Homo sapiens: one gene and its partner. The protein of the gene in region 1 purifies or fractionates together with the protein of each later gene. This does not show direct contact. Each region holds a gene or a part of one and is shown on either strand. Other genes may lie near its edges.

Evidence for each region.
Region 2: the proteins of CA5B (region 1) and DBT purify together in Homo sapiens (affinity purification with mass spectrometry; 2 studies listed by BioGRID and IntAct, with this or other methods). This does not show direct contact.

Annotation. Positions count from the first base shown.
Region 1 is NC_000023.11:15,729,387-15,746,078, forward strand, and holds the start of CA5B (carbonic anhydrase 5B, mitochondrial precursor), read left to right. Parts: upstream 1-8,883; 5' UTR 8,884-8,966; intron 8,967-16,692. UniProt on the Homo sapiens protein: Mitochondrial carbonic anhydrase that catalyzes the reversible conversion of carbon dioxide to bicarbonate/HCO3.
Region 2 is NC_000001.11:100,199,925-100,216,178, reverse strand, and holds part of DBT (lipoamide acyltransferase component of branched-chain alpha-keto acid dehydrogenase complex, mitochondrial isoform 1 precursor), read left to right. Parts: coding exon 1-196; intron 197-1,195; coding exon 1,196-1,362; intron 1,363-2,228; exon of another isoform or gene 2,229-2,956; intron 2,957-5,054; exon of another isoform or gene 5,055-5,139; intron 5,140-5,407; coding exon 5,408-5,485; exon of another isoform or gene 5,486-5,486; intron 5,487-9,542; coding exon 9,543-9,734; intron 9,735-9,877; coding exon 9,878-9,949; intron 9,950-15,377; exon of another isoform or gene 15,378-15,536; intron 15,537-16,254. UniProt on the Homo sapiens protein: The branched-chain alpha-keto dehydrogenase complex catalyzes the overall conversion of alpha-keto acids to acyl-CoA and CO(2).

The DNA of each region.
Region 1 (16,692 bases):
GTTCCTGGAGGACAGGGACTATATTTGGTTCATTTTTGCATTTTTCATAGCCCATGATTATTTGATTGTCGAATATAACTGAATTGACTAGTCTTCATCATAAACTGAAGTTCTAAGAAGCCCAAAACTGTTGGAAATGAAGTGTCTTGAGGTATATTTGATTTTTTTTTCTCATTCCTAGCTTAGGATTAAAAGCGACAACAACAAAGAAAACCAAACAAAAACCCAACTTCCAGAATCGATCATAAACAAAGAATCCTGGAATGTTTTTGTCTTCATCCTGATATTTTATGTCTTTTTTTTTTTTTTTTTTTTGAGACAAGGTCCCACTCTATCACCCAGACTGAGTGCAGCGGCGCCATCTTGGGTCACTGAAACCTCTGCCTCCTGGGCTCAAGCGAGCCTCCCACCTCAGCCTCTTGAGTAGCGGGGACTACAGACATGCGCCACCATGCCTGGCCAATTTTTTTATTATTTGTAGAGATGAGGTTTTGCCACATTGCTCAGGTTGGAATGCCCTATTTTAAGATGAGAAAATCTTATGAAACTAGCATATTCAAAAGGCTCACCAAATTTTGTAGGTTAATTAACAGCCATAACTGTTATGAACTTTGACTTATTTTTCACAGGCTAATTTTTTTTACTTCAGAGAATATTAATTACTACTGTTTGGAAATAAAAATTAACTCAGAGAAACTGAGTGAGTGTCATTTTGCCAACATATTTATAAAGTGGAAATTTAAAGGACAGTTTCTTAAATGGAATGCATGAGCATCTGTCTTTTTGTGTCTCATTCTGTGAATGATTCCCAATAAGGAATAATGAGTCCCATGTAGTCAAAGCAAGACTGTATTGACTCTTCTGATATTTTCTCCTAGATACTCAATTATTTACACTGCTTCTTGGTGTTATATTGAAAGTTTTCCATGGTCTTGGCACATAATGCTTATTTTTCTGGGCTAAAAACTCATGCAGCCATGCATGGAGTTAGGATTTTCAGTCTTTAATCACTTATTTGGCTGCCTGGTTGGAGTTTACCCTAAAGTGTTCAGCCTTGTCCATCCATACTTTACAAAGAGATAGAGGTAGAGGAGGCTGGGTGCGGTGGCTCACATCTGTAATCCCAGCACTTTGGGAGACTGAGGCGGGCAGATTACCTGAGGTCAGGAGTTGGAGACCAGCCTGGCCAACATGGTGAAACCCCATCTCTACTAAAAATACAAAAAATTAGCTGGGCGTGGTGACACACGCCTGAAATCCCAGCTACTTGGAAGGCTGAAGCAGAATTGCTTGAACCCGGGAGGTGGAGGTTGCAGTGAGCTGAGATCGTGCCATTGCACTCCAGCCTGAGTGACAGAGCAAGACTGTCTCAAAAAAACAAAAAAAGAAAGAAAGAACGAGGTAGAGGGGGCATTAGATCACGTGCCACTTTGTTTAGATGCTCTCATTTTCATAACAGAACCTTAAACTAAGTTCCTCCTGGTTGGTATACAAAGCGTATAAATTAATCAACACCTCAACATTTCTGCCCTTAGGTTTTGGCCCGTGAAAATGACCTTGAATTCTCTACCAAGTGATAGTTATCAAGTGTGCTGTAATGAGAAATGTTGTTTTGGTAGGACTGTAAAAGACCTGCATGCAAGGTCTCCATTCCTACAAATCAAATATGTCACATAGGTTGTTGTAGGTAGCCACTCACGCATCTTGTACCCACGATAAACATTGTTAATCAGTCACAGAACATTTTCCTTCTGAGCATGGACTCAGCCACAGAACTTCACAACACAGTTTATTTAGGCAGCTAATATGAATGGATCAGAGTTGACATGCAAATTGAAACCTACTTGCCATGCTGGGGAATAATAACCTAAATGCTACCATGGATTAATCCAGACCATTCCCTGTTGGGGTGATTGGACCCAACACCAGGTCTTGGGGGAGATGAAGTCCGTCGGACTCAAAGGAATGAGAAAAGACAGTTTGAGAGAGAAAGTGGGACCAGGGGGCCATCACTAAGTATGGAGGCTGTGAAGGCCCCGAGCTCTGGAAGCCCAGACTATTTATTGGTGATCAAACAAAGAAACAGGTGGTGAGAATGTGGGGTTGAAAAGGAGCGTTGCATTAAGCACATGATTTACAGCTGTGATGGTTTAGCATATGCTCTGCTACTTGAGATAACGGAGAGCAGGTTCTTTTAACTCAAGATACAATCGCTCCTAGGAGAGCAAGGAGCCAGCAAGTCTAGACACATTCCAGGGCCATGAGGGGTTTTATGCCCTGAGCCCTGGATTCTATCTAAGCAGGAGGGGTTTTATGCCCTAGGCTTAGATTATGGTGCAGCAGGGTAGCCTTCCACCCTTTAGCACAGAGCTTGGTGTTCCAGAGGCCACAAGGGGTTTTAGACCATGGACCCCGGACATGGTCCAAGACTCTTTTACATTATGTCAGACATGCAAGCCCTGCATCAGCTTCTCCCAACACTCAGCTTTTCTCCCAACAATTCCCAACGTGTGTACAGTCTATGGAGTTGAACAGGAAGGTTTGTATAGTCATAGAATTGACTTAATGGACTGTGCTTTGTGATTGTAACAATAGCTTACATTGAAGGAAACTGTGTAATTCTTTAGGACACTTATTTCCCACTTAGCTCACAACCTTATCTTTCTGAGGATTCAGGGTTTCTTTTGGCATTGAAAATCAAGAAAAACTGTAGTTCTCAAAATCAATCAAACAAGCAAACAAAACTCTGGCTTTTAGTTTATGAACACTGGGCTGGGTGCAGTGGCTCACACCTTATAATCCTAGCACTTTGGGAGGCTGAGGTGGATGGATTACCTGAGGTCAGGAGTTCAAGAACTAGCCTGGCCAGCATGGTAAAACCCCATCTCTACTAAAAGAAAAAAAAATTAGCCAGGCATGGTGGCGTGTGCCTGTAGTCCCAGCTACTCAGGTGGCTGAGGCTCGACAATCTCTCGAACCCAGGAGGAGGAGGTTGCAGTGAGCCAAGATGATGCCACTGCACTCCAGCCTGGGCGACAGAGCGAGACTCTGTCTCAATTATATATATTATTAACACTGGAAAACCTTAAAATGATGGTGATTCTCTCTTGCTATGGGCATTCAGAAGCTTAGAGCCAAATCTCTGGCCCACCTTTAGCAAGGACATTTTCCTCTGTGCTAAGAAGGAAAAAGTTCAGGCTTGGTGACTTGTTTATTTTATCATTGGCTGCATTATTCTCTTTCCTTTAAACTTCCCTTTCCGTGGTTCCTTCAGCTATTTCTTTTATCCAATATTGTCTTTAATTTTGAAACTGCCTCAAATCATTTGTGGAAGAAGATGAGCTGTTGCTAACTACATAAAAATGAACACAGTAACTTAATACAAACCATATTTGGTCCCAATTTTTGTTTCTGTTTTCAGGCAAGAAATGTCTTACATTTGAAACATTTTCTATACATGAGGCAGAATTCTCAGGGTCAGGGTGAACTTAATAAAAATGTTTTGTTGAAAAATTGTTCTTTTCTCTGTGCTCCTTCTAGCTCAACTTTGTGAATGTTCCCACTGTCTTCAAGGCAGAAATAGAACAGAAGGTGGGAAAAGAAGGGAACTAATATGTGATTCTAAAATCTTTACTGTTTAAAAAAATAAAAGTGAAATATTTATTGCTGGTAGATGAAGAATTATGTGTAGCAAATCTTGCTGCTATGAGAGGGAAAAAGTGTAGCTCTATACACAAGTAAAAAGGGCATACAAACAGTGAAGATTTATTGTGTAAAAGACTGTAGTAAGTACTATAAATGTGGCTTCCTGTGTTTGCTGCCCAGAAATATCCTACTAATCAGATCAAGAAAGCCTGGCTATGAAAAAATATGGCATCCTGGCCAGGTGCGGTGGCTCATGTCTGTAATTCCAGCACTTTGGGAGGCCCAGGTGGGTGGATCACCTGAGGTCAGCTGTTCAAGACCAGCCTGACCAACATGGTGAAACCCCGTCTCTACTAAAAATACAAAAAATTAGCTGGGCATGGTGTTGCATGCCTGTAATCCCAGCTACTCAGGAGGCTGAGGCAGGAGAATCACTTGAACCTGGGAGGTGGAGGTTGCAGTGAGCCGAGATCAGCCATTGCATACCAGCCTGGGCAACAAGAGTGAAACTCTGTCTCAAAAAAAAAAAAAAAAAGAAAAAAGAAAAAATATGACATCCTAAATAACCACTGTGTTTAATGACATATCAGATTTTACATTCTAGTTCAAGCTTATCTCAGCTTGAACCAGAGTACCTAGCAGTTCATAGGCTAGCACTTGAGTAGCACTGCCTTCTATCATTTATAGTTTAGTTCCTGGCATATAACTAAGCAGTCACTGAACAGATAAAGGAATTAATGAATCATAAAATTATTCATTTAGCAATATTTAAAGGGTATTTGCTGATGCCCCAGGTACTGTGTTAACTGCCAGGAGTACAAAGTTGGGCAAATTGGTCAGAGTCCCTGCTCTTAGGGAATTTACATTATAGTAAACAACCAACCAACAAATAATCAAATAATTTCAAATACTGAGAAACACTATGAAGAAAATAAAATAGGTAATAGAGATGGAGAGGTGAAGCTGTTACTCAAAGTGTCTTTTTGTTTTGTTTTGTTTTGTTTTGTTTTGAGACGAAGTCTCGCTCTCACCCAGGCTGGAGTGCAATGGCGTGATCTCGGCTCACTGCAACCTCCGCCTCCTGGGTTCAAGTGATTCTCCTGCCTCATCTTCCTGAGTAGCTGAGATTACAGGTGCCCACCACCGCGCCTAGCTAATTTTTGTATTTTTAGTAGAGACAGTGTTTCGCCATGTTGGCCAGGCCAGTCTCGAACTCCTGACCTCAGGTGATCTGCCTGCCTCGGTCTCCCAAAGTGCTGGGATTATAGGCATGAGCCACCGTGCCAGCCTCAGAGTGTCTTATAGAACCTCAGGATTGCATCTCCTGGCAGCATGCTTGAAATCTAGAATCTCAAGTCACATCGCGGAACCACTGCATCAGAGTCTGCATTGTAACATGATCTTCGGGTGATCTCTGGGCACAGTGCAGATTGAGAGGCTCTGGATACAACTTCAGATATGGTTGTCAGGAAAAACATATCTAAAGAGGTGACATTTTAGCTAAGTACTGAATAATGAGAAAACTCCAGCCATGTAAAGATCCGAGTAAAGAGTGGTCCAAACAATGGGAACAACAAAAGAAAATGTTCAGAGACAGGAATGAACATGGGAAGACCAGTATAGGTGGATCAGAGTGAGAAAGGGACCTGGAACTCTCTACACTCTGGTATTTATCAAAAACCCTGTGGTGAGAAATTATTTATTTATTTATTTATTTTTGAGACGGAGTTTCGCTGTTGTTGCCCAGCCGGGAGTGCAATGGTGCAATCTCGGCTCACTGCAACCTCTGCCTCCCAGGTTCAAGCAATTCTCCTGCCTCAGCCTCCCTAGTAGCTGGGATTACAGGCATGTGCCACCATGCCTGGATAATCTTCTATTTTTCGTAGAGATGGGGTTTCTCCAGGTTGGTCAGGCTGGTCTCAAACTCCTGACCTCAGGTGATCTGCCCGCCTCAGCCTCCCAAAGTGCTGGGATTACAGGCATGAGCTGCTGCGCCTGGCCACGAGAATTGTTGATTTTGAGTGACTGCACAAAGTTCTGCATGCAAGACCTCTATTTCTACAAAGCAGAGGTACCAGGTAGGTTATTGCATGCAGCCACTTACCTATCCTGCACCCACAGCATTGTTAACTGAGTACAGAACTTTTTCTTTCTGAGCCTGGACAAAGCCCCCAAACTTCTCAACATAGTTATTCAGGCAGCTACTACAAATAGTTCAGAGTTAACATGTGAGTTGAAACCTATTTGCCATCCTGGGGAAAGATGATCTAAATGCTACCCTGGATTAAGCCAGACCATTGAGGGCTTGTGTATTCAAGTGAACAGAAATATGTTGATGGTTCATGGAATTTTTTTTTTTTTTGATACAGGGTCTCAGTCTGTTGCCCAGGCTGTAATGCCGTGGTGTGATCACGGCTCACTGCAGCCTCAGCCTCCCTAGGCTCAGATGATCCTCTCACTTCAGCCTCCCAAGTAGCTGGGACTACAAGCATACATCACCACACTCAGCTAATTTTGTAGAGATGGGGCTTCACCATGTTGTCCAGGCCGGTCTCTAACTCGTGGGCTCATGCAATCCTCCTGCCTCAGCCTCCCAAACTACTGGGATTACAGGCCTGAGCCACTATGCCTGGCCAATTCATAGAATTGATTTAATGCACTGTGCTTTGTGATTGTGCCAACAGTTTCCATTGAGGGGATTTGGGTGTCACTCCTTATGACACATAGTTCCCACTAGGCTCACTACATCATCTTTATGAGGAAACTGTATTTCTCTCAGGACTAAAATTCAAGAAAAACTGCTTCTATAAAAACAAAACAGCCGGGCACGGTGGCTCCCGCCTGTAATCCCAGCACTTTGGGAGGCTGAGGCAAGTGGATCACCTGAGGCCAGGAGTTCGAGACCAGCCTGGCCAGCATGGTGAAACCCCGTCTCTACTAAAAATACAAAAATTAGCTGGGCATGGTGGCGGGCGCCTGTAATCCCAGCTATTTGGGAGGCTGAGGCAGGAGAATCACTTGAACCCGGGAGGCAGAGGTTGCAGTGAGCCGAGATCATGCCATTGCACTCCAGCCTGGGCAACAAGAGTGAAATTCCATTAAAAAAAAAAAAAAAAAAAAAAAGGCCGGGTGCAGTGGCTCACACCTGTAATCCCAGCACTTTGGGAGGCCGAGGCGGGTGGATCACCTGAGGTCGGGAGTTCAAGACCAGCCTGACCAACATGGAGAAACCCCATCTCTACTAAAAATACAAAATTAGCCGGGCATGATGGTGCATGCCTGTAATTCCAGCTACTCAGGAGGCTGAGGCAGGAGAATCGCTTGAACCTGAGGGCCGAAGGTTGCAGTGAGCTGAGATCGCGCCATTGCACTCCAGCCTGGGCAACAAGTGCAAAACTCTGTCTCAAAAAAAAAAAAAAAAAAAAGGGAAAAGAAAAAAAGCCAGTTTTTATCTTATGAACAGTAAAAACCTAAAAATGATTGCTATTTCCTCTTTTCTATGGCTATTCAACAGCTTAGTTAGGGTCAAATTTCTGGCCTACTTCTGACAACTGTTCTGGATCTGATGGAGTGCAAACTTAAATGTTAATCTTATCATTGGCCACATCATTCTCCTTCCATTAAGCTCTCCTTTCACTGGTTCCTTCCCCTATTTTTAAATCTACTAATGTCTATATTTTAGGACGCTGCCTCAAATCATTTGTGGAAGAAGGTGAAGTAGAACTACTTGTATAAAAATAAACTCAGTAATTTATATAGACTGTATTTGGACCAATTTCTGTGAATTCATTTTTCAGGCAAAAAATGACTGACAGTTGAAACATTTTATAAATGAGGCAGAGTTCTCAGGGTCAGGGCGAGCATAATGAAAGTGTTCTGTTGAAAGTTGTTCTTTTCTCTGTGTTCCTTCTAGCCCAACATTTTGAATATTCTCACTGTCTTCAAGCCAGAAATGCAAGGGAGGAGAAGAAAAAAGAACTGTGTGATAGTAAAATCTTTATTGTTGGCATATGAAGCAATATAAGTAGCAAATTTTACTTCTACAAAGGGGGGAAATTATATATTTCTATACATGTGGAAGAGTAGATATTCAGTGAAGATTTTTTGATAATTTATTGTGTAAAGAAATGTACTAAATACTATAAAAGTGGCTTCCTATGTTTACTACCCCCAAATATTCCTACTAATGACCTGAGATTACCAACTCCTTTTCCACCTATTAACCTTTTGCCACATCTTCCCCAATTTTCTCATCCAAACCCAAGTTGGGGCAACTTCAGACTGTAAGCTTCTTGAGGCTTGTCTTGTTTGTCAGGGGAGCATGTACTCAATAAATGAAATTTGCATGAATGAGTCAGAGATTTATGTACACAGGGGAAGAAAGCTGGTTATAGCTTCTTCATATTTTTCACGTGGACCCAGAGTTGTAAATTGAGGGAAGAAGGATAGCAGAGTAATCTCAAAGCACAAAGTGGGGGTGATGTCTTCACACGCCCTCAGCAGCAACGGGGCACTGGGTGCTTAGGAAAGCCCATCTGAAGGAGACATCAGGAAGTAGAGGAATTCTGTTTTTTCCACTCATCTGCCTAGTATTTAAGGTCGGCTAAGAGGCTAGAAGGAACACATCCACAGTTCTGCTTTAGAGGATATGAAAATTGGGCTGGAAGGAACACGGGTCCACAGTTCGAGTTCAGAGGACATAAAAACTGGCTCAAAGAAACTCGGGTAAATTGGACATGAAAACTAGCGGGAAAGGACACGTTCAGTGTTTGTTTCCCTACTGAGTCACCTGTTCCCAGCACATAAAGTCGTGGTGTTTGGAGATGGGAGGAACCGAGGGAAAGTCACTTTTTAGATAAGGCTCTGAAGCCCCAGGTCTAGTTTCAATCCACTAATGCGGCCAGCGGCGAGCAGGAGGAGGGAGGATTGGTCCGGCGGGGGCGGGGCCAGAGCAGGGCTCAGAGGCGTGGCCCAGGCTAGAGGGAAGAGCCCAGGGGGAGCGCAGAGGCGGGGCTAGGAGGGAGCAGGGGTGAATGGGGGCGTGGCCCGGGCGAGAGGGGCGTGGCTGTAGCTAAAGGGGTGTGGCCAGGGTGGAGGGCAGAGACTGGCACAGTTTGGTTGGGCGTGACCGGGGCAATAAGTACGGACGTAGTGGGGCGTGGATCTGCCAGGTGGGGGCGTGGCCTCCATTGAGGGGCGTGGCCCTGGTATGTGGGGCGTAACAGGGCACGAGGGGGCGTAGCTTCGATGGCCGGACGTGCAGGCTGCGGATCCCCGTAGGCGAGCGAGCGGCTAGGTTCGTGATCTGGAGAGACGCTCAGGTAAGGACGGGTGGCCGAGAGGAGTGGGGGGCGACCAGGGACAGGCCGATCCAGACAGGGCCGTGATTCTTCCCACGACTCTCCGCTCTGGCGCACCGGGTTCCGGAGCTAGGAGAGCTGTTGATCCTGCGAGTATTGTCTGGGTCCCGGCAGGGCGCCCGGGAGTACTGAGTGGGGCCTAATGGGGTGTCGAACTCCCCCACCCCAGCCCTCTTCCTCCACTATGGGAGTTACCAAACGGCTGTCATCCTTTAAGGTTCTTTGCACAGGACGCGATAACAGCTGTTCCAGAGAAAAGGGGGTGGGGGCGCGGGAGAGCAGTTCCTTGGTAGGTAGGGTTGCCAAGGTTGGTTGAATCCAAATAACTCCAGAAAGTCCAGCCTTCTGTGAAATAGCTAGAGACGGGGGTAAGGGCGACAAATCTGAGGTTGCGGTTCCAGAAACCGAGGCTCAGTAAACTGGAACTCCCTCAGATCTGCATTGTATCCGCACCACCCACTATGCTAGGGGCTGTGGAGAGACTCACAGCCACTCACCCCCAAGACAGGGTATCAGCATCACAACTGTGCCATGCGGGCAAATCTGAGCTTTCTTCACCCTGCAGTTCTTTCTTCTGGCCTTTTTGTTTTGTGCTCAGCCCTAAAGCTGAAGGAGAGGAACCTCCAAATACAAACCTTGTTGGTTTTCGTGATTCTTGTGGCATTCAATGTTAAATGCTTCTGCCCCGAGGCTTGTGGCAATTGGTTAATATTGATGTCAGTGCCCTTCCCTCCTGTGTATTTTCGCTGGGAAAGTTTGAGAGATAAGGGGAGTTGATGTGTACAACTTAGTTTGAAAAGAACTTGTTCTCTCCTAGCCACTGAAAACCGCGTTGCTTTCTGCTTCCCATTCTTCCTTTACTGATAATCTGGCCATCACTCTGCTGTTTAAAAGTCTTGCTAGAGTATGGAGACAAGTAGTGCTATTTCTGTGGTGAGAGAAGCTGCCCCAGAGCATACCCTTGAATTGTCCCTGCACATCTCTCAGGAGTGGCCACTCTTCTTGGGTATGTTGGAAGTGGAAAACCGTAAAGCTTTCTAGGAATATTTTTTACTGAGGTTTTTTTTTTTTTTTAACCTCAGCATCAGGGTTGGAATTCACTGAAATGCCAAAAGCAGCAAGGGCACCGTTCTCTGTGCCTGTACACACCTGCCCTCTTCTCCCTGGAGCCAGGCAAAAAGCTGCAACCACTCACAATTGGAACGCAGTAAAGGTTGAGTGAATTGTGAGTGAATGAATGAATATGAATATTTGGGAAATTTGACGGAAAGGGGAAAATGCATTTCATCTGATTGGTGGCACTGGGCAATTAATTGCAGCACAAAGAGCAGTTATTAGAAACATATTCTGAAACCTTTGGCTACCACACATTGGGATCATGCTCCCAGGGAAGAAGTGGGTGAGAGGGGGAAGCTGAGCTTTCTCAGTCAAGATATCGCAGCATAATCTCTAATTTAGATTTCAGGGAATTGCAAAAAGGCTTGTTGCCTTTTGAAATCAGGTGGTGATCAAAGGAAGGGTCCATCTGTTGAAAATGAAGGAATTTTTTTCCAATGTAATTGTAACCTTTAGTCAGAGTACATTCTTTTTTTTCTGTCTGTTTTGCCTACATATGAATGGCTTAATCAGGCAGAGTTCAAGCTGCTTGTCATTTAATAAATACAAGATTTATGAATGACTCATTGAGGGCTTTCAAAATCTTTGTTTCCACGCATTTCTAAGTCTGGAAAACAGCTAAGGGGCAGGTTAGCAAAATCCAAGGATATACATAAATCATCAGTGATGGCAAAGAGTATATAACACAGAAAGCTCCCCTGTAGTCCATCGAGCCCAGGGACCCATCTTTATGGACAAACTTATGTACGGACAGATTCTCCCTGAAATACAGTAATGTATGGTATTAGTTGATATGTGCTGTGTTTGCTGGTTAAACATTATTTTTGGTTTCACAAACTTGGGTTTTATGAATGCAGTGAGTAAGTTTAAATAACCAACTCTTAAAAAACTATAACTTCTAATTTAACAGAGAGGATAGACCTTAGGCCTGAACAAAAATAACCTCATGTATTGTTATAGGTATTGCAATCAAGCATTAGCTAAATTGAATTTCTGTTTACTTGGATTTTCCTGGAACCTCCTCACCTGGATCTTCCAAGCTCTGCGCCTTCCTTGATTGCCTTTGACCGTTCTCAGTCTCAGCATCCTTCATGGCTCCTTTTTGTGAGTCTCCCTTGATATACCTGTAACTGCTGGGAGGAGGGGATTCTCTTTCTATCTGTAGCTTCCTGACTGCTCCTGAGCACCAGAGCTGTGTTGCCAACTCTCTCCTAGACCTTTCCTCTCAGCTATCCCATTGACACCTTAAATCCAATATGATTAGAGGGCTGGGCGCCATGGCTCACGCCTGTACGCCTGTAATCCCAGCACTTTGGGAGGCTGAGGCGGGTGGATCGTTTGAGGCCAGGAGTTCGAGACCAGCCTGGACAACATGGCGAAACCCCGTCTCTACCAAAAATACAAAAATTAGCTGGACGTGGTGGTACGCCTGTGGTCCCAGCTACTTGGGAGGCTGAGGTGGGATAATCACTTGAGCGTGGGAGGCGGAGGGTACAGTGAGCCAAGATCGTGCCACTGCACTCCAGCGTGGGTGACAGAGACCCCATCTCGTTCTGTTTTTCTTTTTCTTTTTTTTTTGAGACGGAGTCTCGCCCTGTCACCTAGGCTGGAGTGCAGCGGCACAATCTCGGCTCACTGCAACCTCCGCCTCCTGGGTTCAAGTGATTCTCCTGCCTCAGCCTCCCGAGTAGCTGGGCTTATAGGCTTGCACCACCATGCACGGCTAATTTTTGTACTTTTAGTGGAGATGGGGTTTTGCTATGTTGGCCAGGCTGGTCTGGGACTCCTGCCATCAAGTGATCCACCCTCCTCGGCCTCCTAAAGTGCTGGGATTACAGGCGTGAGCCTCTGCACCTGACCCGGAGACCCTGTCTCAAAAAAAAAAAAAAAAAAAAATCCCATTTGATTAGAGGTATGACCTGCCATCATCTTTCCCTTCCCTGTTTCTCATGACAGGTTTGTGGGGGATTTTGTTTGTTTGTTTTTTTTTGAGACAGTGTCTTGCTGTGTCGCCCAGGCTGGAGTGCAGTGGCACGATCTCAGCTCACTGCAACCTCTGCCTCCTGGGTTCAAGCAATTCTCTGCCTCAGCCTCCCGAGTACAGGCGCCCGCCACCACGCCTGGCTCATTTTTGTATTTTTAGACAAAAATCTCTAGACGAGGTTTCACCATCTTGGCCAGGCTGGTCTGGAACTCCTGACCTCTTGATCCACCCGCCTCGGCCTCCCAAAGTGCTGGGATTACAGATGTGAGCCACTGTGCCCGGCCTAACAAATTCTATTTTTCTGTACAGGGATTCATCCTCGTCTTACTGCTAGCATCACTCCAGCCATTAAATGAGATCTTCCTCCACTTCTTCCTTTTATTCTCCTTTAACTGAGTGACAGACCCTACATTTTAAAAATCACAATGGCTATCTTTGAATACCAAGTACCCTGTCCAACTATACTGTCACTGCCCAGTTCAGTGCTTCATATTCTCTTACTCAGATTATTGGAGTTTCACTTCAAACTCCACATGCTTAAACCTGAGCTACTTATTTCCCACCCAAAACCTGTTTCTCCCACTGTCTCCCCTATCTCAGTTTGTGGTAACTTTATCTTTCCAGTTGTGTAGACCAAGAATCTTCCAGTAATCCTTAACTCCTTTCTTTCACATCTTATGGGCTGTATATTCAAGATATATCAAAATTCAACCACTTCTTACCACCTCCACTGTGACATCTCTGGATTAGTTCAAGCCTTGGATTATCCCTAAAGGGTTTTCCTACTTCTTTCCTACTTCCTGCTTCTTTCCTGTTCCTCCCTGTTTCTACTCCCCAAGGCAATTTTCAACAGGACATGCTGTGATGTTTTTCTGTTTTTTTGGGTTTTTTTTGAGACGGAGTCTCGCTCTGTCACTCTGATGCCAGGCTGGAGTGCGGTGGCGCAATCTCAGCTCACTACAACCTCCACCTCCTGGGTTCAAGCAATTCTCCTGCCTCAGCCTCCCGAGTAGCTGGGATTACAGACGTGCATCACCATACCTGGCTAATTTTTGTATTTTTAGTAGAGTCGTGGTTTCACCATGTTGGCCAGACTGGTCACGAACTCCTGACCTCCAGTGATCCTCTCCTCCCGCCTCGGCCTCCCGAAGTGCTGGAATTACACGCATGAGGCAACACGCCCAGCCTGAGTGATCTTTTAAAAATGTAAATTACTGTATGTAAATGTAAAATGTTACTGCTCTGCTCGGAAACCTCCACTGTCTCCCCTTTTTACTTAGAGCAGTGATTTTCAACCTGTGGTAACCCTATTCCCCTCCCGCAGGGGACATCTGGCAATATCTGTAGATATTTTTTGTTGTAACAACTCTGGTATAGGGTGGAACTGGCATCTATTGGATGCTAGCCAGTACCGATGCTCCTAAACACCCTACAATGCACACAGCATTCCCCCACAACCAAGAGTCATCTGATCAAAAATGTCAACAGTGCCAAGACTGAGAAACCCTAACTTAGAGAAAGAACCCTTGCAGTAGCCCAGAAGTCTTGATCTGTCATCCATTACCTGTGAACCTCATCTCCTACTGCCTTCCTCCTGGTTCACTCTACTCCTGCCATATTGGCCTCCTTACTATCCCTTGAATATGCCAGACATACGCCCACTTCAGGATCTTTGCCCAGGCAGTTCCCCACGCCTGAAATGTCCTTCCTTTAGATAGCCATGTAACTAATTCCCTACCTCCTCCAATCCTTTGCTCAAATTTTATCTTCTCAGCGAGGCCTCCTGTGAACAATATATTTAAAAATATAATACCCTCTCTCAAGTGGCACTCCAAATTCATCTTACCCTGCTCCACTTTTTACTAGACATATTCAAATTGTCTCTACAACTGACTTGTTTATTACATTTGTTGTTTATTACCTGTATCCCCTACTAAAATGTGAGCTCCATAAGGGTAAGGGCTTTGTTCTGTTCCCCAATGAACCTAGAACCATGTTTCATACTTAATAGATGTTCAATTGATATCTTAATGACAAAAAGAATAAAAGAGTGATAGACTGAATGAAGGTTGGTTAAAGGAATCACCTCCTCACTGACTTTCCTGGCTCCACTCACTCCCATCCATCCCGTACTCCATTGTCAGAGTCATCAGAAACCATCACTGCTTTCTCCTGTACCCATGGAATAATATCCAAAAGGCTTCCAGTCTCTTGGAAGTTCATATTCCCCAAATTAATCTCAAATCCTCATCTAGCCCCACCTCCTGCTGCATCCCCTGGGCATCTGCTTGGCCAGTGCATTGACAAATATTAATAGCAGACTTGGAATGATGGGAAGTTCAGAAATACTCTTGGCTTTCTTTCAGAAAAACAGGTTTGAGGTTTGTGGGGTTTTGTTTTTGTTTTGTCTAAAGGAGAAAAAGAAAATCTTCAGAGTCAGGGTCCCCTACAGTGAGATCAGCACCATTCTGGGGCACAGATAGAGGTCCAGACTTTTGGACCACTACAAGCAATCTACCACTGAGTGTGGAGGAGAATGACTGAGAGGGTGAAGGTGAGGATGAAGTCAGGCCCTCTGGAGCCCTCCTGCCCCCTAGCCCTAGAGAGTCAGTCTGGATGTACAGGAGAAACTTCCTCTAGGCCAGGCGTCATTGGCCTCCAGCCTTGGTGTCATGCAGACAGTGTGATTGCAGAATGGAGGGCAGTCCTCAAGGCATGACCATGGCCCTGGCCGTCAGCCCCAGCCTGCCATGCCTCAGTGCTTTCCGGATGGCTCTCTGTGGAGCAGAGTCAAGGGTCATTTCCCAGATGTCTCTGAATGCCATGCTAACAGGCCTCAGACCCACCCCCGACCAACAGCCTCTTGTGCAGGGCCCTGTGCCTTGGCCTCATGTGTGTTCACTCATCTGTTTGTACAGCTCTCCTGGCTGGCGGCCATGCCCTTGGCCTTGTCTTATCACAAGCTTCCCTTTGAAGGCAGAGCCCACACATCCTTTCTGTTGACTTTGCATTGTACTTGCCATCATCTTCCCAAAAATTACTATGTCTCATTCTAACTCGATTGTGAGCAAGAAAGGAGGCCTTTTCCACTTGTTTGCCCACATCCCCCTGATACTGGAATTGTTTATTGAGTAAACCTAAAGTTCTTCCCATTTTGACTCCAATTGTTCTCTTCAGCATTGGGGCCTCATCATCCCCTGCCACCTCCTCATCATCGCGGAAGGTTCCCCTGTCCATCCCTCTGCCTTTGCCTCCCTGTTAAATTGTCTCTCTCCTACAATACATTTTTCAGATGCCACCCTTTCCTGAAACTTAGAGCCCCTGCGCCACATATTCCCATTGCACTAAATCAAGGCCGTCATTGTGTCCAGCTTTGATTAAGAAATTTCTGTTTATGGCCAGGCACGGTGGCTCATGCCTGTAATCCCAGCACTTTAGGGGCCAAGGTGGGCAGATCACCTGAGGTCAGGAGTTCGAGACCAGCCTGGCCAACATGGTGAAACCCCGTCTCTACTAAAAATACAGAAATTAGCCGGGCATGGTGGTGGGTGCCTGTATTCCCAGCTACTCTGGAGGCTGAGGCAGGAGAATTGCTTGAAGCTGGGAGGCGGAGGTTGCAGTGAGCCGAGATCGCACCACTGCACTCCAGCCTGGGTGACAGAGCGTGACTCTGTCTCAAAAAAAAAAAAAAAAAAAGAAAAGAAAAGAAAAGAAAAGAAAAATCTGTTTAATTATACTAAGTAAAATAAGCCAGTCACAGAAGGACAAATACCGTACGATCCCACTTACGTGGGGTATCTAGAATAGGCAAATAAATACACAGAGACAAAGTAAAAGCGAGATTGCCAGGGGCTAAGGGATAGAGGAGGAGTTATTGTTTAGTGAGTACATAGTTTATGTTGGGGATGATGAAATAGTTTTGGGTGCAGATGGTGGTGATGGTTGCACAACATTATGAATGTATTTAATGCCACTGAATTTGTACATTTACAGCTGGTTAAAATGATAACTATTATATATGTTTTATCACAATTTTTAAAAGGTAACAAAAAAAGAAGTATTTGTTTAAATAGTTTTTCTTTGTAGATTGCAAGCTTGTGGGAGTGGGGAAAGAGCATGATCTTTTCATCTTTACACAGCACAGTGCTCGACATGAGATAATCACTCACTGTTCCTTCAGTTCAGGACTGGAAATCAATGGAAAGGAAGAACAGTTAAGGCAAGCTTTCCCCATATCTTTTAGAAGGTTTTGAAATTTCATTTTAATGTCAAATCAGTTTTATCAGAGGGAATCCTGATTAGTTGCAGTTGTTTGTTTGGGGATATTTATTGACTTTAAAAGAAAACAAAAAAATGATACTAAAAGTCGTCCAAAATGACTATTTTCATAGCTTTTTGCATTTATATGATGGGTAGCATTTTAACAAAATCAATTTGAGTAATAATAACTTGTATTTATATAACACTTAGCAGCTTTTTCAAAGAGCTTTCATAGCTTGCACCATTTGAAGCCACAGAAAGCGTCAACTTCTTTTTTTTTTTTTTTTTTTTTTTTTGAGACGGAGTCTCGCTCTGTCACTCTGTCAC
Region 2 (16,254 bases), on another chromosome or scaffold:
GGCTCAGGAAAAGATGGCAGAATACTTAAAGAAGATATCCTCAACTATTTGGAAAAGCAGACAGGAGCTATATTGCCTCCTTCACCCAAAGTTGAAATTATGCCACCTCCACCAAAGCCAAAAGACATGACTGTTCCTATACTAGTATCAAAACCTCCGGTATTCACAGGCAAAGACAAAACAGAACCCATAAAAGGTAATGATAATAATAACAATACTATAAGGCAATAGTTCATTTATTTTGGGGGAAGCTACCTCAGTAGATAAATGTATATAATATGGTGTTTTCAAGTCTTACTGAAGGGAAAGTTCAACTTCAGTCAGCATATAATTTTTCTTTTCTTTTCTTTTTTTTTGAGATGGAGTTTTGTTCTTGTTGTCCAGACTGTAGTGCAGTGGCACGATCTTGGCTCACTGCAGCCTCCGCCTCCCAGGTTCAAGCAATTCTCCTGCCTCAGCCTCCTGAGTATCTGGGATTACAGGTGCACGCCACCATGCTCAGCTAATTTTTTGTATTTTTAGTAGAGACAGGGTTTCATCATGTTGGCCAGGCTGGTCTCGAACTCCTGACCTCAGGTGATCCACCCTCCTCAGCCTCCCACAGTGCAGGGATTACAGGCGTGAGCCACTGCGCCTGGCCATAATTTTTAAATGGTGAAATAGCATAGCTTTTCCAGGAAACACTTACAATTTATGTGTATCATTATCTTCTGAAGAGTAATACGTTAGCAGGTTTCTTGAAATATAAACTTGTATATTGATAATTGCTCTGTTTGAAGACACACAGGACATTTTAAACATTCACTATTTGTAGTTAGCTTTCAAAATAACTAGTTCTGATTTGTTATTTATAAACTCCTGGAATGATTAACTTCCAGAAGAGTGGCTTTGCAGGAAAGCTGTTAGGGAAATACATGGCTTGCATTCTTTTGAATTTTTTATATAACACAGCATTTAAAGCAGTTACCTGCTATGTTATTGCATTTGCCACTGAGTGTCATGATGCAGTCAGTGTTCCAGCTTTGAAATTAGTGACTTTCAGTGTAATGTAATGAAGAGAGTAGTAAGAGGAAGGGTTTAACTGAGAGAGTAAAAGACATTAGAGAACCTTCCATTTTAGTTTCTTTAAAAAAAAAAAAAAGGATGAAGAGATTTGAGAATTTAAATAAATGAATAACAATTTAATGCTTTTCAGGCTTTCAAAAAGCAATGGTCAAGACTATGTCTGCAGCCCTGAAGATACCTCATTTTGGTTATTGTGATGAGATTGACCTTACTGAACTGGTTAAGCTCCGAGAAGAATTAAAACCCATTGCATTTGCTCGTGGAATTAAACTCTCCTTTATGCCTTTCTTCTTAAAGGTGAGATTCATTCATTTCAAACAAGGCTTGAGTAGGACATTTATTTGTTTGTTTGTCTTTTTGAGACAGAGTTTTGCTCTTGTCACCCAGGCTGGAGTGCAATGGCACAATCTCGGCTCACTGCAACCTCCACCTTCCGGGTTTAAACAATTCTCTTGCCTTAGCCTCCTGAGTAGCTGGGAATACAGGCACCTGCCACCACGCCTGGCTAATTTTGTATTTTTAGTAGACACGTGGTTTCGCCATGTTGGTCAGGCTGGTCTTGAACTCCTGACCTCAGGTGATCCACCCCCGCCCCAGCCTCCCAAAGTGCTGGAATTCCAGGCGTGAGCCACCATACCTGGCCCCAAGTAGGACATTTAAATTTTGCTTTGCCAACATGCAATATGTTGACTGTGGCCTTGAATAAAAATATTACTTTTCGCAACATCAGATAGTTAGAAAATGTGCCATTTCTTTGTTCAATAGGAAATTATAAAATTGAGATTTCTGTACTATATTTTTAGCTGCTTATCTTTGAGCTAGGTAGAGACAATTCTGCCAGTTAAGTAAAGCCTCTGATCCTAAAAGGATCACTCCAACCAAGTCTTGGTTTGAACTAAAATGAGACTTGATATTAATTTTGCAATATCACTGACATATATTTAATATTTATTTTCATTTACTCAACCAACTTATATTGAGGATCCTGGGAATCATTTCTAGTGCTAAGCCTTGGGACCAGTATAAAATGGAGTAAGACCATCAGCTAACCTTGAGCAGCATACAGTCTAGCTCACATTAGTGACTGTGCAGCAGCTACCATGTGCCAGCCTCCATAGTAAGCATGCTGTATACATTATCTCTCTCTTTTTTTTTTTTTTTTTTGGTATGAATCTCATTTATTGAAAAGATTATTTCTCACCTTTCTCAAATTGAAGACTGCAAAAAATAAAAGCAGTGCTTCATTGAGTTGTCATGAGCCTGGGGCAGGAGCAGCAGCGCTGCCTCTCCACGCTCCGGGAAACCGCAGCTGGCGTGTGCCACATCGGTCCCACCTCGCTTTACAAAACAGTCCTGAAGCTTAATCAAATAAAACTATTGAACACAACATTTACATTAGAAAAAGAGAGCTGGGTGTAGGAAAGGCCGAGCCTGGTGTTCCCTTTAAGCGAAGGTGGCTCCACAGTTGGGGCATCTTCGCTCCCTCAAGGCAAAACAGCAAATGAACCCAAAGGGGAACAGGATGATGGCCAGGAAGATGCCCAGGAAGGTGAAGCAGTCCTGCAGCCCCCCGACCCTGCAGACGGGACAGCCTCCCACGACCACGATAGAGTTGGTAGGATAGCGGATGACGGTCCAGCTGTGGATGTTGTAGACCCTGGGATGGTGGGTGGGTGTCCGTGTGACGAGGTAGGAGTAGGGCGGCTGCGGGGGCGCGGCGGGGATGGCGCCGTAGCCGTGCGGGCCTCACGCGTAGTCGCCCTGGCCGGCCTCCAGGTTGTAGGCGGGCGGCCGCTCCTGCAGCAGAGTCTTGTGGTCCATGGCGGCCCGGCTCGGCTCTGTCGGCCCCGGCGGGGACGCGGCGCACGCCCCGGGTGGCTCGGGCCCCTCTGAGGCAGACGCGGGGCAGGGCCCATTATCTCTTAATTCTCAGAGTAACCCTGACATGTAAATATTACTGTCTCCACTTTCCATTTAAGGAAATTGGGGCTCAGAGAGGTTGAGAAACTTGTTAAGGACTTACAGCTAACAGGTGGAGAAGCTCTTTCAGGTTCTGGTCTGTTTTACTCAGAAGGACATACTGATGTCTGTAATGCCAACATGTCCAGTCCTTTCTCTACACTGCACCAAGACTGGTCTTCCGTAAATCAAATTACTGTAATATTCTCTGATTCTTTTCAGTGGTTCCCTTTCATTACCTTCAGGATAATTTGTATGCCATACTCCTTAGTGTGGCATACAAATGTGTTATAAGTCTCTGCTGCCTGCCTCTCCATTCTTACCTCACTCCCTCATATTAAGGTACCCATAATTGCTGGAATACACAATTCCACCTGAAGTGCCCGTTCTTCTCGATCAAACACCTGCAAATCCCAAACTGTGGTCAGGTACAGACTCCTTCTGTGGCTGTCACTATTTGAATTAAATACTTTTGTTTCCCACTGTTAACTTATCTCAGTGCATTGAGTGCTTACTCAGTTTTCTCTTCACTTACTCACTTACTGGGCGCTGAGCCTCATGAGGCAGAAACTATTCTTCTTTATCTCCCTTTTTCTTTCTTTCTTCTTTTTTTTTTTAGAAAGGGTTCACTTTGTTGCCCAGGCTGCTGGAGTGCAGTGGCACAATCACAGCTCACTGCAACCTTGAACTCCTGGGTTCAAGTGATCCTCTGCCTCAGCCTCCCGAGAAGCTGGAACCACAGGTGTGCACCACCACACCTGGCTAATTTTTTTTTATTCTTAGTAGAGATGTGTCTCGCAGTGCTGCCCAGGCTGGTCTTACAGGGATGAGCCAGCATGCCTGGCTATTTTGTTTTAAAATAAAACATAAGTTTCAGAACATTCGAAAAAATACTACACAGTATTGTAGAGGGGGAACAAATGACCTAATCCATTGACACATACCTTGTATTTTCTTGGACAAAATTTGGATTATACTCAAATATTTTTATATGTAACAGTTTAGACTAACCTTAGGGGTTTTTAGATAAAGACTATTAAAATTACAGTTATTGAATCAAATGCTTACTAAAACTTTCAAGTTGGCTGGGCGCAGTGTCTCACGACTGTAATCCCAACACTTTAGGAGGCCAAGGCAGGCAGATTGCTTGAGCTCAGGAGTTCAAGACCAGCCTGGGCAACATGGTGAAACCCCATCTCTACAAAAAATACAAAAGTTACCTGGGCATGGTGGCACACGCCTATAGTTCCAGCTACTCGGGAGGCTGAGGCAGGAGGGTCACTCGAGCCAAGGACGTTGAGGCTACAGTGAGCTGAGATCATGCCACTGCACTGCAGCCTAGGTGACAAAGAAAGACCCTGTCTCAAAAACAAACAAGAAAAACTTCCAAGTCATAAAAATTAAGGAACTCGTAGCAGTTCTTTTAATTATATTTTTCTTCAGTTGATCTACTCTCTTAACCTGTCCTAACTAATGAAAATGAAATGTCTCTATATATTTAAACTTTTTTCTTAACTCTCTAGTTCAAGAATTTGATTTTTTTCCCATCAAGACCCCGATGCACTGAGAAGAATAACACAATGCATGTAAAGAACTTTAACAGGGACCAGACAAGGGCAGTGGGGGAGGGAATTCTTTTTAAGAATGATCTTAAGCATTTTTATTTTGCTATCTTTTAAATTCAATACAATGCATGGCCACCACATGTAAGGTATGAAACTTGATTATTAGATCCCAAAAACAGATTATCAAGAACATTTTGGGTACAGTTAGGGAAATCTGAATATGGACAGGAGAGAAATGGTATTAAGTGACAAAAGGGAGAAGGCAGCAGAGAGGGAAAATATAAATGCTATTCAGTGAGACTTGAGCTGTAAAGTAAATGTTCAGGACATCTCTGCCCTTCAGCTGGCCAAGGACACCAAGTAGCAAACTGGCATCTACTGGTCAGTGCGCTTTGAAATCCTCGTTACGTGTTCTTTCCACACAGAGAAATAGCTTACCTGCTTTTTTTGTGTTTTGATTCCTAGTATTACTTCTCATGGAAATCTTAAGATCAACATGTCAGTGAGGAAATCACCTAGAATTTAGACATTTTCTTTGGAACTTTGGCTGGTCTGTATCATTATTTTGAAAATCTCCTTGATGTTTACAAGCTACCTGACTACTTTATCTTTTATTCTTTAATGATTAGGGTGACCTAGTTCCACATGGCCTGAAGGTAACATTGGCAGTAATGTGACTAGGTACATGTAGACTTGAAATTAAACTCAGCATAAATAAGAGTTCTCTCTCTCCCTCCTTTTATACCTCTTATTGTTTCAAATTCTCTATCCTTTCTAAGTTAAAAGTACTAAAATTGCATTCTTTTTCTGTTAAACAGGCTGCTTCCTTGGGATTACTACAGTTTCCTATCCTTAACGCTTCTGTGGATGAAAACTGCCAGAATATAACATATAAGGTTGGCTATGCAGAGTAAAAATGTTCTTATTATTAATAGAAGATGGGGCAAATGTGCTTGTAGATTAGAGACTTCTATTGTACCTCAAATAGTGATCTTTTTTAGACTAGAATTAAAGGTATGGGGTAAAACATTAAACTTAAGTCTAATTCATTGTTGTTGTTTTTGTGTTAATAATACTGTTTAGAGATTCTTAAAACTATTTTTAAGCTTTTTTTTTTCCTGCTTAAAATAATGGAAATACATAGCTGTATGGCAGATTATGTTACCCACTCTACTTACCCTCTCAAAAAGAAGCAGCTCTTTCAAAATTGAATTCCTGGAATTTTAATATTATTATTCTTATTCTTCTTCTTCTTCTTCTTCTTATTATTATTATTATTATTGGCAGAGTCTCACTCTGTCACCAGTTTGGAATGCAGTGTTGTGATTGTGGCTCACTGCAGCCTCAACCTCTCAGGCCCAAGCAATCCTTCTGCCCCAGCCTCCTGTGTAGCTGGGACTATAGGCATGCGCCACTATGCCCAACTAATTTTTAAATTTTTTGTAGAGACGTGGTCTCATTATGTTGCCCAGGCTGGTCTTGAACTTCTGGTCTAAGCAATCCTCCTGCCTCAGCCTCCCAAAGTGCTGGGATTACAGGCATGAACCACTGTGCCTGGCAAATTCCTGGAATTTTAATATTAAGAATAATTTAAGTGAGAAAAATAATAAAAGTTTGAATTCAATTTGAGTAAACTCTTCTGTGAGTAGTGAAAGTTTCTTAAGACCGAAAACTCTTTTTGAGATGCCTTTCCTGAAGTTTACTTATCATTAGAAGTGCACAACCAGAGGCTGGGCACGGTGGCTCACGCCTATAATCCCAGCACTTTGGGAGGCTGAGGCGGGTGGATCATGTGAGGTCAGGAGTTTGAGACCAGCCTGGCCAACATGGTGAAACCCTGTCTCTACTAAAAATACAAAAATTAGCCAGCCGTGGTGGCCAGCGCCTATAGTCCCAACTACTCAGGAGGCTGAGGTGGGAGAATTGCTTGAACCCAGGAGGCGGAGGTTGCAGTGAGCCAAGATTGTGCCACTGCACTCCAGCGTGGGCGACAAGAGCAAAACTCCATTTCAAAAAGAGAATTAAAAAAAGAAAAAAAAGAAAAGACATGTACAACCAGAAAGTGAGCTTAGATATTCTGGGAGGTCAGCTCCCATACGGTTAATACAGTCAGCTGTATTAATTTTAATTTTAATATCTCCTGATTAAGTATATACTTATTAAAAAAATTTCAGGCAAGAAAATGATGTTGGCCGGGTGTGGTGGCTCCTGCCTGTAATCCCAGCACTTTGGGGGACAGAGGTAGGAGGATGGCTTGAGCCTAGGAATTCAAGACCAGCATGGGCAACAAAGTTAGGAGGCCCCATCTCTACAGAAAAAAAAAATTAGCCAGGCATGGTGGTGCATGCCTATAGTTTTAGCTGCTTGGGAGGCTGAGGCAGGAGAATCATATGATACCTGGGAGATGGAGGTTGCAGTGAGTTGTGATCATGCCACTGCACTCCAGCCTAGGTGACAAAGTGAAACCCTGCCTTTGTCAAAAAAAAAAAAAGAAAAGAAAAGAAAAGAAAAAAGAAAACAAAGATGTTTACCCTCAATTCCATGACCCTAAGATAGCTCACTGTTTATGTTGAGATATACATCTTTCTAGGATTTCATTTTTACATACTTTTTACAAGATATAGAATTATTTATATTTTCTTTAACTTGCTTTTTTCTTTTTCTTTTTTTTTTTTTTTTGATACAGAGTCTTGCTCTGTTGCCTATCTAAAGTATTCCCCATAGAGAATATCTATGCTGTGGTGTAATCATCGCCTCACTGCAGTGTCCACCTCCCACCGCAGCCTTCTGAGTAGCTGGGACTATAGGCACGTGCCACCATGCCCAGCTAATTTTTGTACTTTTTTTTTTTTTTTGTAGAAATGGGGTCTTGCCATGTTGCCCAGGCTGGTCTCTAACTCCTGGGCTCAAGTGATCCACCCACCTCAGCCTCCCAAAGTGCTGGGTTACAGGCATGAGCCACTGTGCCCAGCCTCTTCATTTTCATTTACTATATTGTAGACATCATTGTCAACAAGTATAGCTTTGTTATTTATTTAGCCAGTGACCTATTTATAAACATCATGATTATTTGCAGTTTCTCAAACTTATAAACAGTGTGTACTCAACATCCCTGTGTATCCCTACATACTTCTGCACTTAGTTCCTTAACACGAATTTTTATAAATGTTGGTTCATGTTGTCATATGTTCTCCAGAAAGTCTCTACAGTTTAAGTATCCGTTACCTGAAATGCTTGGGACCAGAAGCGTTTTTGGATTTAAGATTTTTTTGGATTATGGAATATTTGCATATACAAAGGAGATATCTTGAGGACAGGACTCAAGTGCAAACATGAAATTCACTTATGTTTCATTTACCCCTCATACACATAGCCTAAAGGTAATTTTATACAATATTTTTAACATTTTTGTGCATGAAACAAAGTTGGATTTGTTTTTTTTTGTTTTTGTTTTGGAGACAGAGTCTTGCTCTGTGGCCCAGGCTGGAGTGCAGTGCTGCGATCTCGGCTCACTGCAAACTCTGCCTCCTGGGTTCATGCCATTCTCCTGCTTCAGCCTCCTGAGTAGGTGGTACTGCAGGAGGCTGCCACTACGCCTGGCTAATTTCTTTTTGTATTTTTCGTACAGATGGGGTTTCACTGTGTTAGCCAGGATGGTCTCCATCTCCTGACCTCGTGATCCGCCCGCCTCGGCCTCCCAAAGTGCCGGGATTACAGGCGTGAGCCACTGTGCCCGGCCACAAAGTTTTTTTTTTTTCTTTTTTTGACACAGAGTTTTGCTCTGTCACCCATGCATAATCATAGCTTATTGTAACCTAAAACTCTTGAGGTCAAATGATCCTCCCACCTCAGCCTCCCAAGTAGCTGAGACTATAGGCATGTGCCATAATTTAAAAAAAAATTTTTGTAGCTAATTAAAAAAAATTTTTTTGTAGAGATGGAGTCTTGCTATGTTGCCCAGGCTGGTCTCAAACTCCTGGCCTCAAGCAATCCTTCTGTGTCAGTCTCCCAAAGTGTTGGGATTATAGGCATGAGCCACTATGCCCTGCCAGAACAATGGCTGCATTTTTCTCTTTTTTTTTTATTGATGGGCTCTGATATGATTAAATATTATAAAATGAGAACTGTTTCAACAACTATGCAGCATAATGTTTAAGGACAAAATATTGAATATACTTTTTATTATATATGTATTTTATCACATAGTAAGGAATGCTGAGGTGCTTAATCCATCCAATAAATTGAAAATAAAATCTTTACATTTCTATATTTGTCAGTATACAGAATTCTGAAGATGGATCTTGACTCAGGGTGATAAATCAGTTTTCAAGGAAATTGGCTACATCACATGACGTCATTTCAGCCCCCAGAAGTTTCAGATGTTGGAGCATTTCAGATTTCAGATATTTGGACTAGGGATGCTCAACCTGTACCAGTTACATTCCCACTAACGATGTTGGGAAATAGCCTATTGCCTACATTCTTATCAATAAAAAATTATCATCTTTTTTTGGACAGAGTCTCACTCTGTCTCCCAGGCTGGAGTGCAGTGGCACAATCTCGGCCCACTGCAACCTCCACCTCCCAGGTTCAAGCGATTCTCGTGCCTCAGCCTCCCGAGTAGCTGGGATCACAGGCCTGTGCCACCATGCTAATTTTTGTATTTTTAGTAAAGATGGGGTTTCACTATGTTGGCCAGGCTGGTCTTGAACTCATGACCTCAGGTAATCCAGCCACCTTGGCCTCCCAGAGTGCTGGGATTACAGGCATGAGCCACTGCGCCTAGCCCAAAAAATCTTTTAAAAATTATTTTTAAATTATTTCTTTTAAATCACTACCAATCTGGTAAAAATGAGTTTTGGTAGTGGTTTCTAGATGGCAGTGAAGGTTGATCCTTTCTTTGCTGTTAGCTTATTCATTAAAAGCCCTACTGTACAATTTTTTATTTTTTAGGCTTCTCATAACATTGGGATAGCAATGGATACTGAGCAGGGTTTGATTGTCCCTAATGTGAAAAATGTTCAGATCTGCTCTATATTTGACATCGCCACTGAACTGAACCGCCTCCAGAAATTGGGCTCTGTGAGTCAGCTCAGCACCACTGATCTTACAGGAGGAACATTTACTCTTTCCAACATTGGATCAGTGAGTAATAATGTTGAAATACATAAACCATTACTTAAGGTTTCTGATCATATGCTTAATTAAAAATAGAAAAGTCACTTGGCATTTGTTCCCTGAAAAATCTTAACTTTTAATACTCTCCTTTTTTTTTTTTTAAAAAATAGATTGGTGGTACCTTTGCCAAACCAGTGATAATGCCACCTGAAGTAGCCATTGGGGCCCTTGGATCAATTAAGGTACATGTATTAGATAACTGAAAAATGGAGTTTAAGCAAATTCAGGGACTAAACACAATGAAGAGTAACCATTTCTAAGGTTTCCCCTCCTTTTGTAGGTTTTAAGTTTCTGAGTTTATCTTAGAAAGTCTATTATTTCTTTTTTTTTTTTTTTTTTAACTTTAAGTTCTGGGATACATGTGCAGAATGTGCAGGTTTGTTACATGAGTATACACCTGCCATGGTGGTTTGCTGCACCCATCAACCCGTCATCTACATTAGGTATTTCTTCTAGTGATATTCCTCCCCTAGCCCCAGACCCCACGACAGGTCCCCAGTGTATGGTGTTCCCCACCCTCTGTCCATGTGTTCTCATTTTTCAACTCCCACTTATGAGTGAGAACATGCAGTGTTTGGTTTTCTGGTTTCCAGCTTCATCCATGACCCTGCAAAGGACATGAACTCACTCTTTTTTATGGCTGCATAGTATTCCATGGTGTATATGTGCCACATTTTCTTTATCCAGTCTAACTAACATTGATGGACATTTGGGTTGGTTCCAAGTCTTTGCTATTGTGAATAGTGCTGCAATAAACATACATGTGCATGTGTCTTTATAGTAGCATGATTTATAATCCTTTGGGTATATACTCAGTAATGGGATTGCTGGGTCAAATGGTATTTCTGGTTCTAGATCCTTGAGGAATCGCCACACTGTCTTCCACAATGGTTGAACTCATTTACACTCCCACCAACAGTGTAAAAGCGTTTCTATCTCTCTATATTCTCTCCAGCATCTGTTATTTCCTGCCTTTTTAATGATTGCCATTGTAACTGGCATGGTATCTCATTGTAGTTTTGATTTGCATTTCTCTAATGACCAGTGATCATGGGCTTTTTTTCATATGTTTGTTGGCCATATAAATGTCTTCTTTTGAAAAGTGTCTGTTCATATCCTTCGCCCACTTTATGATGGGTTGTTTGTTTTTTTCTTGTAAATTTGTTTAAGTTCCATGTAGATTCTGGATATTAGCCCTTTGTCAGATAGATAGATTGCAAAAATGTTCTCCCATTCTGTAGGTTGCCTGTTCTCTCTGATGATAGTTTCTTTTGCTGTGCAGAAGCTCTTTAGTTTCATTACATCTGATTTGTCAATTTTGGCTTTGTTGCAATTGCTTTTGGTGATTTAGTCATGAAGTCTTTGCCTATGCCTATGTCCTAAATGGTATTGCCTAGGTTTTCTTCTAGGGTTTTTATGGTTTTAGGTCTTACATTTCAGTCTTTAATCCATCTTGAGTTAATTTTTGTATAAGGTGTAAGGAAGGGGTCCAGTTTCAGTTTTCTGCATATGGCTAGCCAGTTGTCCCAACACCATTTATTAAATAGGGAATCCTTTCCGCATTGCTTGTTTTTGTCAGGTTTGTCAAAGATCAGATGGGTTGTAGATGTGTGGTGTTATTTCTGAGGCCCCTGTGCGGTTCCATTGGTCTATCTCTCTGTTTTGGTACCATTACCATGCTGTTTTGGTTACTGTAGCCTTGTAGTATAGTTTGAGGTCAGGTAGCATGATGCCTCCAGCTTCCTTCTTTTTGTTTAGGATTATCTTGGCTATGTGGGCTTTTTTTTTGGTTCCATATAAAATTTAAAGTAGTTTTTTCTAATTCTGTGAAGAAAGTCAATGGTAGCTTGATGGGAATAGCATTGAATCTATAAATTACTTTGGGCAGTTTGGCCATTTTCACAATATTGATTCTTCCTATCCATGAGCATGGAATGTTTTTCCATTTGTTTGTGTCCCCTTGTATTTCCTTGAGCAGTGGTTTGTAATTCTCCTTGAAGAGGTCCCTCACATCCCTTGTAAGTTGGATTCCTAGGTATTTTATTCTCTTTATAGCAATTGTGAATGGGAGTTTCCTCATGATTTGGCTCTCTGTTTGTCTGTTATTGGTGTATAGGAATGCTTGTGATTTTTGCACATTGATTTTGTATCCTGAGACTTTGCTGAAGTTGCTTATCAGCTTAAGGAGATTTTGGGCTGAGCCGATGGGGTTTTCTAAATATACAATCATGTCATCTGCAGACAGAGATAATTTGACTTCCTCTCTTCCTATAGAATATGCTTTATTTCTTTCTCTTGTCTGATTGCCCTGGCCAGAACTTCCAATACTATGTTGAATAGGAGTGGTGAGAGAGAGGGCATCCTTGTCTTGTGCCAGTTTTCAGAGGGAATGCTTCCAGCTTTTGCCCATTCAGTATAATATTGGCTGTGGGTTTATCATAAATAGCTCTTATTATTTTGAGATATGTTCCATCAATACCTAATTTATTGAGTGTTTTTAGCATGAAGGGGTGTTAAATTTTATCCAAGGCCTTTTCTGCATCAATTGAGATAATCATGTGGTTTTTGTCATTGGTTCTGTTCATGTGATGGATTATGTTTATTGATTTGCACATGTTGAACCAGCCTTGCATCCTAGGGATGAAGCCGACTTGATTGTGATGGATAAGCTTTGTAATATGCTGCTGGATTCGGTTTGCCAGTGTTTTATTGAGGATTTTGGCATTGATGTTCATCAGGGATATTGGCCTGAAATTTTCTTTTTGTGTGTGTGTCTCTGCCAGGTTTTGGTATCAGGATGATGCTGGCCTCATAAAATGAGTTAGGGAGGATTCCCTTTTTTTCTGTTGTTTGGAATAGTTTCAGAAGGAATGGTACCAGCTCCTCTTTGTACCTCTGGTAGAATTTGGCTGTTAATCTATCTGGTCCTGGGCTTTGTTTGGTTGGTAGGCTATTAATTACTACCTCAGTTTCAGAACTTGTTATTGGTCTATTCAGGGAGTCGACTTTTTCCTGATTTAGTCTTGGGAGGGTGTATGCGTCCAGCAATTTATCCATTTCTTCTAGATTTTCTAGTTTATATGTGAAGAGGTGTTTATAGGATTCTCTGATGGTAGTTTGTATTTCTGTGAGATCAGTGGTGATATCCCCTTTATCATTTTTTATTGTGTCTATTTGATTCTTCTCTCTTTTCTTCTTTATTAGTCCAGCTAGCAGTCCATCAATTTTGTTAATCTTTTCAAAAAACCGGCTCCTGGATTCATTGATTTTTTTGAAGGGTTTTTTTGTGTCTCTGTCTCCTTCAGTTCTGCTCTGATCTTGTTTATTTCTTGTCTTCTGCTAGCTTTTGAACGTGTTTGCTCTTGCTTCTCTAGTTCTTTTAACTGTGATGTTAGGGTGTTGATTTTAGATCTTTCCTGCTTTCTTCTGTTGGCATTTATTTCTGTGGGAAATTTATAGTGCTATAAATTTCCCTCTACACATACTTTAGCTGTGTTCCAGAGATTCTGGTACGTTGTGTCTTTGTTCTCATTGGTTTCAAAGAACATCTTTATTTCTGCCTTCATTTCATTATTTACCCAGCAGTCATTCAAGAGCAAGTTATTTAGTTTCCATGTAGTTGTGTGGTTTTGAGTGAGTTTCTTAACCCTGAGTTCTAATTTGATTGCACTGTGGTCTGAGAGACTGCTTGTTATTGTTTCCATTCTTTTGCATTTGCTGAGGAGAGTTTTACTTCCAATTGTGTGTACGATTTTAGAATTAGTGCTATGTGGTGCTGAGAAGAATGTATATTCTGTTGATTTGGGGTGGAGAGTTCTGTCGATGTCTATTAGGTCCGCTTGGTCCAGAGCTGAGTTCAAGTCCTGAAGATGCTTGTTAATCTTCTGTCTCATTGTTCTGTCTAATGTCTAATGTTCTGTCTAATGTTGACAGTGGGGTGTTAAAGTCTCCCATTATTATTGTGTGGAAATCTAAGTCTCTTTGCCAGTCTCTAAGAACTTGCTTTATGAATCTGGATGCTCCTGTATTGGGTGCATATATATTTAGGATAGTTAGCTATTCTTGTTGCATTGATCCCTTTACCATTATGTAATGCCCTTGTCTTTTTTTTATCTTTGTTGGTTTAAAGTCTGTTTTATCAGAGACTAGGATTGCAACCCCTGCTTTTTCTTTTTTTTTGCTTTCCACTTGCTTGGTAAATCTTCCTCCATCCCTGTATTTTGAGCCTATGTGTGTCTTTGCACATGAGATGGGTCTCCTGAATACAGCACATTGATGGGTCTTGACTCTTTATCCAGTTTGCCAATCTGTGTCTTTTAATTGAGGCATTTAGCCCATTTACATTTGAAGTTAATATTGTTATATGCAAATTTGATCCTGTCATTATGATGACAGCTGGTTATTTTGCCTGTTAGTTGATGCAGTTTCTTCATAGTGTCGATGGTCTTTACATTTTGGGTTGCTTTTGCAGTGGCTGCTACCAGTTGTTCCTTTCCATGTTTAGTGCTTCCTTCAGGAGCTCTTGTAGGGCAGGCCTGGTGGTGACAAAATCTGTCAGCATTTGCTTGTCTCTAAAGGATTTTATTTCTCCTCCACTTATGAAGCTTAGTTTAGCTGGATATGAAATTCTGGGGTGAAAATTCTTTTCTTTAAGAGTGTTCAATATTGGCCCCCACACTCTTCTGGCTTGTAGAGTTTCTGCCGAGAGATCCACTGTTAGTCTGATGGGCTTCCCTTTGTGGGTAACCCGACCTTTGTCTCTGGTTGCCCTTAACATTTTTTTCCTTCATTTCAACCTTGGTGAATCTGACAATTATGGATCTTGGGGTTGCTCTTCTCGAGGAGTATCTTTGTGGTGTTTTCTGTATTTCCTGAATTTGAATGTTGGCCTATCTTGCTAGTTCGGGGAAGTTTTCCTGAATAGTATCCTGAAGTGTGTTTTCCAACTTGTTTCCATTCTCCCTGTCATTTTCAGGTACACCAATCAAACGTAGTTTTGGTCTTTTTCACATAGTCTCATATTTCTTGAGGCTTTGTTCCTTCCTTCTCATTCTTTTTTCTCTAATCTTGTCTTCATGCTTTATTTCATAAAGTTGATCTTCAATCTCTGATATCCTTTCTTCCGCTTGATCGATTCAGCTATTGATACTTGTGTATGCTTCACGAAGTTCTCATGCTGTGTTTTTCACCTCCATCAGGTCATTTATGTTCTTCTCTAAACTGGTTATTCTAGTTAGCAATTCCTCTAACCTTTTATCAAGGTTCCTAGCTTCCTTGCATTGGGTTAGAACATGCTCCTTTAGCTCGGAGGAGTTTGTTATTACCTGAAGCCTACTTGTGTCAGTTCATCAAACTCATTCTCTGTCCAGTTTTGTTCCCTTGCTGGCGAGGAGTTGTGATCCTTTGGAGGAGAAGAGGCGTCCTGGTTTTTGGCATTTTCAGCCTTTTTATGCTGGTTTTTCCTCATCTTTATGGATTTATCTACCTTTGATCTTTGCTGTTGGTGACCTTTGGATGGAGTTTTTGCATGGTCGTCCTTTTTGTTGATGTTGATACTATTCCTTTCTGTTTGTTAGTTTTTCTTCTAACAGTCAGGCCCCTCTTCTGCAGGTCTGCTGGAGTTTGCTGGGGGTCCATTCCAGACCCTGTTTGCCTGGGTATCACCAGTGGAGGCTGTAGAACAGCAAAGATTGCTGCCTGCTTCTTCCTCTGGAAGCTTCATCCCAGAGGGGCACCTGCCAGATGCCAGCGAGAGCTCTCCTGTATGAGGTGTCTGTCATTCCCTGCTGGGAGGTGTCTCCCCGTCAGGAGGCATGGGGGTCAGAGACCCACTTGAGGAGGCAGTCTGTCCCTTAGCAGAGCTCAAGCGCTATGCTGGGAGATCCACTGCTCTTTTCAGAGTCGGCAGGCAGGAAGGTTTAATTCTGCTGAAGCTGCGCCCACAGCCACCCCTTCCCCCAGGTGCTCTGTCCCAGGGAGATGGGAGTTTTATCTATAAGCCCCTGACTGGTGCTGCTGCCTTTCTTTCAGAGATGCCTGCCCAGAGAGGAGGAATCTAGAGAGGCAGTCCGGATACAGTGGCTTTGCTGAGCTGCAGTGGGCTCTGCCCAGTTCGAACTTCCCTGTGGCTTTATTTACACTGTGAGGGGAAGACCGCCTACTCAAGCCTCAGTAATGGCTGACACCCCTCCCCCCACCAACCTCCAGCATCCCAGGTCGACTTCAGACTGCTGTGCTGGCAGCGAGAATTTCAAGCCAGTGGATCTTAGCTTGCTGGGCTCCGTGGGGTTGGAATCCACTGAGCAAGACCACTTGGCTCCTTGGCTTCAGCCTCCTTTCCAGGGGAGTGTCTCTCACAGTTCTGTCTTACTGGTGTTCCAGGCATCACTGGGGTATGAAAAAAAAAACAAAACTGCAGCTAGCTTGGTGTCTGCCCAAACGGCCTCCCAGTTTTGTGCTTGAAACTCAGGGCCCTTGTGGAGTAGGC